Regions from separate parts of the Homo sapiens genome. Here region 1 is linked to region 2. The links come from fine-mapping of genetic effects on gene expression. A gene starts in region 2. The other region holds a variant in brackets. All regions are shown on one strand. Distances are between the middles of the regions.

What was found. PIP is the estimated chance that this variant, and not a neighbour inherited with it, causes the effect.
Region 1: its variant is the best candidate, but not a certain one, in a credible set for the expression of EEF1A1 in rectum (CEDAR, PIP 0.71).

The regions. Positions count from the first base shown.
Region 1 is chr6:73,748,254-73,753,253 of GRCh38, forward strand. All of the region lies in intron 5 of CD109 (CD109 molecule), which reads left to right. Among named protein-coding and RNA genes, the nearest start is that of CD109, 55 kb to the left of the region's middle. The variant A/G (reference allele first, on the strand shown) is at 2,235.
Region 2 is chr6:73,518,079-73,523,359 of GRCh38, forward strand. EEF1A1 (eukaryotic translation elongation factor 1 alpha 1) reads right to left here and starts at 2,954. Exons shown (of 8, transcript NM_001402.6): 1 at 2,922-2,954; 2 at 1,805-1,978; 3 at 1,259-1,438; 4 at 854-1,150; 5 at 620-770; 6 at 276-532; 7 at 1-186. The coding sequence starts at 1,948. RefSeq lists enhancers at 1,292-2,114, 2,072-2,371, 2,115-2,936, 2,662-2,771, 2,822-2,901 and 1 more and a silencer at 3,482-3,711.

The sequences.
Region 1 (5,000 bases), 230 kb after region 2:
GCAACCAATTATCTACACAGCAGTAAAAATAATCTCAACATTAGCTGGATCATGTTATTCCCCAGCTTAAAACTGTCCAAAGACTTTCCACTGGCCTCAGAACAAAATTCAGATGTTTTACCATGGCCTACACAGGGTCTTACCTGATCTGACTCTGTTTTTCCCATCTCATCTCCAGATTTCATAACTCTCTGTAAATGTTAATTCACAGCTTTTATCATAATTTGTAATACATACTCACATATGTGGTTATTTGATAAATATCCTTCTTTCCACTAGATCAGAAGGTCCATGCGGGGTTGTATTCCCATTACACCTGCCACTCAGGCGCAATGAATATCTCTTGAAGGAATGGATGAATGAATGCATTTGTTGTGTTTGGGCCTCAGCCCTGGTAATTCTGATTCAGTAGCTCTGGGGTAGGAACTGGACACCTCTATTTATTAAACCCACCACAGCTGATTCTGATGCTGAGTTTGGGTTGAACCCCATAGAGAAATATGTTGCAACTACAGTTTAGACCACAGGTGTTTAGACTCTAAACAGGAAAGGGAAGGAAAGGATGATGTAAATGTTAATAAACATTTTCTCTCATTTTGCAAACCCTATTGACTCTGTCATTCCTCTAAGTAGGACAGTGTACATCAGCTGACACTTTTACAGGATGATATTTCCATTGTGATTTCTTTTTTATTTTTAAGCTCTCCCAATTTTATGGTAAAAATAAAAGAGGGGAAAAATAGGGTATTACATGATTGCTATTACGTAGGCAATAGGTTTAGGCATAGTCAGGTTAGTAGGGATCGGAATAAAGCTAAAAATATGAAGCTTTTGTGTTGTATGCGAGGGTGGGAAGAAACACCAGTCAGTACACATCTAAAGGTGACAAGACACAGACCTGGCTTTCAAGGAGCTTACAATCAGAAAAGCTTCGTGTAACAAATGCAAAGAGCATTAGATTAGGAGTCCTAAGACCTGGGTACTGTGCTCTAGTTAAGTGATGGTGGGCATGGCATTTCAGCTGTGGGTCTCCGTTTCCTCAGCTGTAAAATAAGGGGTTTGGATCAAGGGATTTTTAAGGATCTTCACAACTTTACAAGTCCAAGATAGGGCTGGAGGGGACTGTAGGATTTGGATGGGAAGTGGTGGGCTCTGAGCTGGCTGACAGGGCTGTGGGGCTGGGAGCAGGCACTGGCTGGCATGGAGGGCTTGTAGAGAGTAGTAGTTGAAGAGAAAGGTGGGGAAGTTTGTGGGCCGAGCTGTGGAGGATATTGGCTATCAGGCTGAAATTTTGTATTTCATTTTGTAGACAACAGGCAGCTCTAAAAACTTTTGTGTATTTTACTTTGAATTTCAATCAGTGATGCAAATTTCAATATAGGACTTCTGAGGACAAAGGAAACAAAATGTGTGTGAATGGGTCTCTCAAATTATAAAAGTTATAGGATCATACCTTCATAATTTTCCTCTGGTTATAAAAGTAATGCATGAGTAAGGTAAAAACATCCAAACATGATAGTGTAGAAAGTATGACACCCTTATGGTAAACTTCCAAACAAACAAAAATCATCAGTATGTGTTGTCTTCTTATTGCTTTAGTAGAAAGTTTCTATGTAAAAGTATGACATGATTAAAGTTGTATTTTAGGAAGATCACTTTGGTGGCAGCATGTAGGGTGATTAGAGGGAGAGAAACTAAAGTCCAGGAGACTACCAGGGGGTTAGTATTATTGTTTAACAAATATACGAATACCTTCAATGTTAGCTTATAATCGAATACCTTCAGTGTTAGTAAGTTCAAAGGTAATGGGGGACTGCGGTAAGAGAGCAGAAAAAATTAAAGAGGAATGGATGAATTCAAGAGACACTTAAAGGCAGAATCATTAGGATTAGTGACTGGATTTCGATTGGAGCAGAGAAGAAAGAGGAGCAAAAGGTACCTGGGAATTTCAAGTTGGGTCTTTGGGAGAATCACCCATATCAGTTCTAGGGAAGTTAGGGATGGAAGCTCAGTTTGGGTGAGTGGTATGAGCTAGATGTATTTGGACTGAGCCATCAGAAATCACATTTAGGAGCAAAGCAGAGAAGCCATCCAAAGCAATAGAGAAAGAACAGCCAGTTTTGGGAAGAGAAAAGCAAGCAAGTTCAGGCACAGAGCAGAGGGCAAGAGATTCAGAGAGAGTGGCTTTCCAGGTGCTGCAGAGGCCTCAAAGGGAGTGAGGCCTGAGAAAGGTG[A/G]CAGGCGGTTAGAGGAAAGCAACCTGGCATACCGAGCATCTTCTGGGGTCAGTGAAATGGGAGAGGCAGAATCGAGATTTCAAGAGCAATAAAGCGCATAAATAGCTATACATAACATAGCTATGTAATGTAGGGTAATGTATATAATAGTCTACAACTTCTGTTCCTAAGAAGGAGAGAATTAATATGATTATCTGGTGGAGGCAGCAGCAATATAATTTCATTTATGTTATGGTATTCCTATTCTTACTTAACATATTCATGCCCAGTTATTTATGTGTAACTGTGAGGTTGAACATTTATTACTTGACAGGTGAAGTAAAAAAGCACATTATTTTTGTGCCATTTTGTCCTGTTCTTTGGGACGAATTCTTCCCTACTCCTTGGATAAAATGTAGGGAAAATCTCATCATTTTTATGGTTACTCTTTGGTAACAAAAGGTCCTGTCATGTTCGGTTACTTTCATATACACAGTCTACATTCAGTAATTAATATGTCCAGTCTAATAAAATAAAATGCTCCCTTCTCCAGCTCGGGTCTTCTTTGGTCTGGATGCCTGCCTCCAACTCACTAGGCTGCCTTTGACTCCTCCAGACTGAATTGGGTGGAGGAAAGAGAAGTGAGGGGTAACAAAATTCTCATCTGATGTATAAGGATGAGTCATGTGAACTTGCTAATATTTGTCCTGCAAAAATGTCAATTTAATATGGTTCAATGTAATACTGTTGTCATCTGCATGAGACCTGTCTGGGCTAAGACGGCATTTAAAACTACATTTTTCCTTTTTAGAACTCCTTTCTGTATTCCTAGGAGGACCCTTAAGATTGTGGGGAGGTCTTTCATCCAAAGTACCCTGGATGCTTTTGAATCTGTCTCCTCCAAATGGCAGCTCATAACTCCATCTTTAGCTGCTGGGCATCTAGATCACACACCTCAGCTTCCCTCTTCTGAGGGCTTGCCTTATTCCTACTAAGGCTGTTTTGATCAGGATAGAAAACAGTTCCATGCTGACTTGCTCTTTTGGCATATCTAGTTGAGGGAAAATGCTCATGCTTTCTCTGATCCTGAACATTCAGGAGATGCAGACCACTCCTAGCATAGCACACTCTTAGCTCCACTGCCAGCACAAATATTATACCCTTTAGAGTTTTCAGGTGTGTCAACAGCCTGCTCACTGACAGCTTGAGGATGCTCCCAGGGACACATACCTAGTTGTCTGCATTGTCTATGGAAGCCCGTTTCCCTAGGCTTGAAATGAGGGCCAAGCAACTCTACCTGATGCCCCAGGGTGGGGTGAGTGCCACTCCTAGCTCATCGAAAGCTCTCTCCTGAAATTCCCTTCTAGTTTTATTTTTATCTTGACCTTTCCACCTTGGTGATGGGTTAAGAGTTACAAAACCAGTTTTTGGAAACCTCCTTTACAGGTCCTGCATCCTTCACCTGTGGAAGGTGGACATAGTTGACATCTATTGTCTTGGGGGCTAAACGCAAAACTGAGTCTGAAATAGTTCCCTTTTAACCTCCCGTTATGTGCAGATTTAACAAATTCAGTGCCTTTCTTAAAGTAAAAGGTACATCCAGACACTGGAGAGTAGTGCTAAAACAAACTATTAGGGAATTGAAATGACCATAAAAGAACATAATGAACAAACAGAAATAATCCAACCAGCACCTTAGTTTTGATTCTGGCATTGCTTTTTACTCCAGAAGCAAGAGTTGAAAGAAACTGACCTGCATTTTAAAATATATTTTTTAATGGTCATGTAATATGCTATATTTCTTCAAATCTGTTAAAAATAGAAACTCAAGAGTTGGATGGCATCATGGTTAGGGAAGAAAAATTCTGTAACTGGAATAGATGGTTGTAGTAATTCACATGTCTCAATTTGTATTCTAGTCATAACATACTTCTTAAAAGGGTGGTAAAAATAATGTGTTTTCTCTTTCCCACTTCATTTGTCTAATTTCTGTAACATACACCCTCACAATGAATTATTGACTCAGGGACAAGAGGTAGAGAAATTACAGAGGTTGCTAAGAATACCTGCTGACTCTTATTTTCTACTTCTGCTTTAGAAGTTGTTTAGAAAATCTAATCAAGGCCGTCTTACATCCAGTAGAAACAGAGAGTTTCTACTGGATGTGCTTTGGAGCAGGTTTTTAAGAGAGAGCTTTCCCCATGGAAGAGTGACCATATTGGGGAAAGAAGAGCTCAGGAGACATGAGTTATGCTTCTCTTGCCTGGGGAGGTGTTTGCTTAAAAGACATGCTGCCCAAGTATTTAAGCCTTCAGGTTAGGGTCTTTTTTCCAGTTGTTGGCAGAGTGAATGAGCATGAACTGTATTTGATGAACTACAGTTAACACAAATACTCATTTTGAAGCAGATAAAATTATTTTGAAAGTGAAGGAAAATTGTTTCATAAGAGAAACTTGTACTTCCTACGAAAAGACTGTGTTTTTTTGCTCCATGTTTTTAGTAAAGTTTAGTCAAATTTAGTTTAGTTCACCTAGAACGAACACTGAACAATTTGGAAATACATTTTATTCCTTTTTTTAAACTAGAGGTTAGCAAACCCTGGCAGAAAAACCAAATGTAGCCTGACACCTGTTTTTGTGAATAAAGATTTATTGGAACATAGTCGTGCTCGTTTGTTTACAAATTGTGTCTGGCTACATTTGCATTGCAACAGCATTGTTAAGTAGTTGGGACAGAGACCATATGGCCTGCAAAGCCTAAAATATTTACTATCCCACTCTTTACAGG
Region 2 (5,281 bases):
AACCATATCAACAATGGCAGCATCACCAGACTTCAAGAATTTAGGGCCATCTTCCAGCTTTTTACCAGAACGGCGATCAATCTTTTCCTTCAGCTCAGCAAACTTGCATGCAATGTGAGCCGTGTGGCAATCCAATACAGGGGCATAGCCGGCGCTTATTTGGCCTGGATGGTTCAGGATAATCACCTTGGAAAAAAGATTTGCATTCAGTGCAAATCCAAAGTCTCAAATGACTTTAGCCTCTGCAATAAGTTAATGTTACTTTAAATTGTTACCTGAGCAGTGAAGCCAGCTGCTTCCATTGGTGGGTCATTTTTGCTGTCACCAGCAACGTTGCCACGACGAACATCCTTGACAGACACATTCTTGACATTGAAGCCCACATTGTCCCCAGGAAGAGCTTCACTCAAAGCTTCATGGTGCATTTCGACAGATTTTACTTCCGTTGTAACGTTGACTGGAGCAAAGGTGACCACCATACCGGGTTTGAGAACACCAGTCTCCACTCGGCCAACAGGAACAGTACCAATACCTAAAAATATTTACAGCATACTAAATACCTATGAAGGCAGACAGTACTCTATCAACTCAAATTCAACTTTGTTTACAGCCAACTTACCACCAATTTTGTAGACATCCTGGAGAGGCAGGCGCAAGGGCTTGTCAGTTGGACGAGTTGGTGGTAGGATGCAGTCCAGAGCCTCAAGCAGCGTGGTTCCACTGGCATTGCCATCCTTACGGGTGACTTTCCATCCCTTGAACCAAGGCATCTGAAACACAAGCATGCCAATTTGTGTAAGCATGAAATCGCCATTCCCAGAGCTTTTTAACAATGGTCTTGAAAGCCACTTACGTTAGCACTTGGCTCCAGCATGTTGTCACCATTCCAACCAGAAATTGGCACAAATGCTACTGTGTCGGGGTTGTAGCCAATTTTCTTAATGTAAGTGCTGACTTCCTTAACAATTTCCTCATATCTCTTCTGGCTGTAGGGTGGCTCAGTGGAATCCATTTTGTTAACACCGACAATTAGTTGTTTCACACCCAGTGTGTAAGCCAGAAGGGCATGCTCTCGGGTCTGCCCATTCTTGGAGATACCAGCTTCAAATTCACCAACACCAGCAGCAACAATCAGGACAGCACAGTCAGCCTTTAAAGAAAGCAAAGACATATCCCTGTCAACTCTCCAAATGACAAAACCAGTGTACAAAGCAAGCCTTTTGGGATAAAGAAACCTAGAATTATTAATCCCACCAACCTGAGATGTCCCTGTAATCATGTTTTTGATAAAGTCTCTGTGTCCTGGGGCATCAATGATAGTCACATAGTACTTGCTGGTCTCAAATTTCCACAAGGAGATATCAATGGTGATACCACGTTCACGCTCAGCTTTCAGTTTATCCAAGACCCAGGCATACTTGAAGGAGCCCTTTCCCATCTGTAAGGATTAAGAGTCGTTACTTGGTTACTAAAACACAAACTCCAGCTTCAATTTCCTTGTCCCCAGCCCTTAATTGGCAGTTTCCACTTTACAACTCCAAGTCCAAAGTGATTTTAGTCACTTTGGGTTACAGAAGCAACCAAAAATCAAACTTTTATAAGTCGGATCTTAACTATTAACATCCAAATCTACTCACTAGCAATACGATTACAGAAGTCACCAAAAGCAAAATTATTTCATAAGTAAGGTCTTAACTATTAGCATTCAGATCTAAACCACTCACTAGTTCTGGGGAAATCACCTAATGATTCTGCTGGTAAAACTCATTTTAGTTGATCTTTCCCTTTCTGGTATTAAACATACCTCAGCAGCCTCCTTCTCAAATTTTTCAATGGTTCTTTTGTCGATGCCACCGCATTTATAGATCAGATGGCCAGTAGTGGTGGACTTGCCCGAATCTACGTGTCCAATGACGACAATGTTGATATGAGTCTTTTCCTTTCCCATTTTGGCTTTTAGGGGTAGTTTTCACGACACCTGAAATGGAAGAAAAAAACTTTGAACCACTGTCTGAGGCTTGAGAATGAACCAAGATCCAAACTCAAAAAGGGCAAATTCCAAGGAGAATTACATCAAGTGCCAAGCTGGCCTAACTTCAGTCTCCACCCACTCAGTGTGGGGAAACTCCATCGCATAAAACCCCTCCCCCCAACCTAAAGACGACGTACTCCAAAAGCTCGAGAACTAATCGAGGTGCCTGGACGGCGCCCGGTACTCCGTGGAGTCACATGAAGCGACGGCTGAGGACGGAAAGGCCCTTTTCCTTTGTGTGGGTGACTCACCCGCCCGCTCTCCCGAGCGCCGCGTCCTCCATTTTGAGCTCCCTGCAGCAGGGCCGGGAAGCGGCCATCTTTCCGCTCACGCAACTGGTGCCGACCGGGCCAGCCTTGCCGCCCAGGGCGGGGCGATACACGGCGGCGCGAGGCCAGGCACCAGAGCAGGCCGGCCAGCTTGAGACTACCCCCGTCCGATTCTCGGTGGCCGCGCTCGCAGGCCCCGCCTCGCCGAACATGTGCGCTGGGACGCACGGGCCCCGTCGCCGCCCGCGGCCCCAAAAACCGAAATACCAGTGTGCAGATCTTGGCCCGCATTTACAAGACTATCTTGCCAGAAAAAAAGCGTCGCAGCAGGTCATCAAAAATTTTAAATGGCTAGAGACTTATCGAAAGCAGCGAGACAGGCGCGAAGGTGCCACCAGATTCGCACGCGGCGGCCCCAGCGCCCAAGCCAGGCCTCAACTCAAGCACGAGGCGAAGGGGCTCCTTAAGCGCAAGGCCTCGAACTCTCCCACCCACTTCCAACCCGAAGCTCGGGATCAAGAATCACGTACTGCAGCCAGGGGCGTGGAAGTAATTCAAGGCACGCAAGGGCCATAACCCGTAAAGAGGCCAGGCCCGCGGGAACCACACACGGCACTTACCTGTGTTCTGGCGGCAAACCCGTTGCGAAAAAGAACGTTCACGGCGACTACTGCACTTATATACGGTTCTCCCCCACCCTCGGGAAAAAGGCGGAGCCAGTACACGACATCACTTTCCCAGTTTACCCCGCGCCACCTTCTCTAGGCACCGGTTCAATTGCCGACCCCTCCCCCCAACTTCTCGGGGACTGTGGGCGATGTGCGCTCTGCCCACTGACGGGCACCGGAGCCTCACGCATGCTCTTCTCCACCTCAGTGATGACGAGAGCGGGCGGGTGAGGGGGCGGGAACGCAGCGATCTCTGGGTTCTACGTTAGTGGGAGTTTAACGACGGTCCCTGGGATTCCCCAAGGCAGGGGCGAGTCCTTTTGTATGAATTACTCTCAGCTCCGGTCGGGGCGGGTTGGGGGGGGTGGTGACGGGGAGGCCGCCTGGAAGGGACGTGCAGAATCTTCCCTCTACCATTGCTGGCTTAGCTCCAAAGGTTGTATTGAGATTAGGGTGTACCTTCGCCTCTCAATCAGCCTCCCGTCCTCAGCCTTGCCATCTCGCTAGTCCGGGACAAATCCCTAGAGCGTCTTCCTCTGCGGGTCTCAGCCCAGCCCGGGGTTGGCTCCTCCTCCGCCCCGGCTTCCGCGCCCCTCCCGTGTGGCAAGGAGTACCAGGCCCGGGGACCCCGAGGGGCTTGGGGCGAAGGGTCGGGACTGGGGGCCTCCTTAACGGCTCACGGACTTGCGAGAGGTTCGGCTCGATGGCCGTGAAAGCGACGAATCCGCTCCTGTGCTGGCCTCTTGGCTCCTTCCATTCAAAGCCAGCTGCTTTTATGGAAGCCCGTAACACGTCATCTCCCCCTGGTACTCCAGATGTCCAGGCTTTCAGTTTAGAATAGACTCAGTCCTACAGTTAGCTTTAGATCTAATTCTAGTTTTGTTACGCCAAAAAGTTCCTGCGAGTGTGTGTGTGTGCCTCATGGTACTTTTTAAATTAAAAGGTGTACAGTTATTTGATTGCAAACATAAGGAACCTAAAATGCTTTCAGATTTTCCACATGATCTCATGTAGAGGCTAAGATCTACAGCATCAGCAAGTTTATCCACCCAGTTTCCTAACCCCAACACTTGCTATGAAGTCACAGCTTCTCCTATTTAAATAAGTGCCTATTATATTTAAATAAGTGCTGTCGTTTTCTGTCATCCTATCGATTGTAACTGCATTTTAGCATAAATCTAGGGCAAGATTGGATGAGCTTGGCCTTTTTGGATGGCTATCAAGGCAGGCCTTGGGAAATGCTCCTCTGAGGAAAGAAGAACGTTTATTTTTAATGAGCTAATTACTAGATCATTATGTTTCTTCTTCCAGCTGTAGAATATCATTGCCCAGCTTCTCGAACAAACTTATTTATTAACAAGTATTTGAGAACCTACTATGTGGCCAACGCTAAGTACTGTGGAGTTCCTTCTGGAGAGGAAACCACAATCAAATTGGAAGAGGAAAACAAGTTGGGAAGCAGTTGAAGGCAAACGCTATGGTGCTTTCTTGGTTTCTGTATCTTTGTAGTGTAGTTTTTCTAGTCCTTTCAGTTTTCACAGTCCACTTTTTTTTCTTTCTTTCTTTTTTTTTTTTTTTTTTGAGACGGAGTTCTACTCTGTTGCCCAGGCTGGAGTGCAGTGGCGCGATCTCGGCTCACTGCAAGCTCTGCCTCCCGAGTTCAAGCGATTCCTCCTGCCTCAGCCTCCCAAGTAGCTGGGACTACAAGCGCGCCCCACAAATTTTTGTATTTTTAGAAGAGACGGGGGTTTCACCATGTTGGCCAGGCTGGTCTCGAACTGCTGACCTCAAGTGATCCACCCGGCTCGGTCTCCCAAAGTGCTGGGATTACAGGCGTGAGCCACGGTGCCCGGCCACAGTCAAAGTTTTTCCTCAAGCCCCTGTGATTGCGGATAATAGTAAACGCTTTATAAATACCTTACACAGAATGTTTTTTAAAATATCACGCAAGGAATGACAAAATTACATGAATCCTTGATTTATACCTAAGTAACATATTGTGCAACACAGACTGGGTGTTCTGAATGTTGCGATAGTGGCCGAGACTTTCATTAGGTGAAGGGAGATCTCAATTCTCGCGTTTAAGAACCAACACTGGACCGGGCGCGGTGGCTCACGCCTATAATACCAGCACCTTGGGAGGCCGAGGCGGACGTATAATTTGAGGCCAGGAGTTCGAGACCAGCCTGGCCAACATGGTGAAACCCTGTCTACTGAAAATACAAAATTAGCCGGGCGTGGTGGCGCATGCCTGTAATCCCAGCTACTTGGGAGGCTGAGGCAGGAGAATCGCTTGAGCCCGGGAAGCGGAG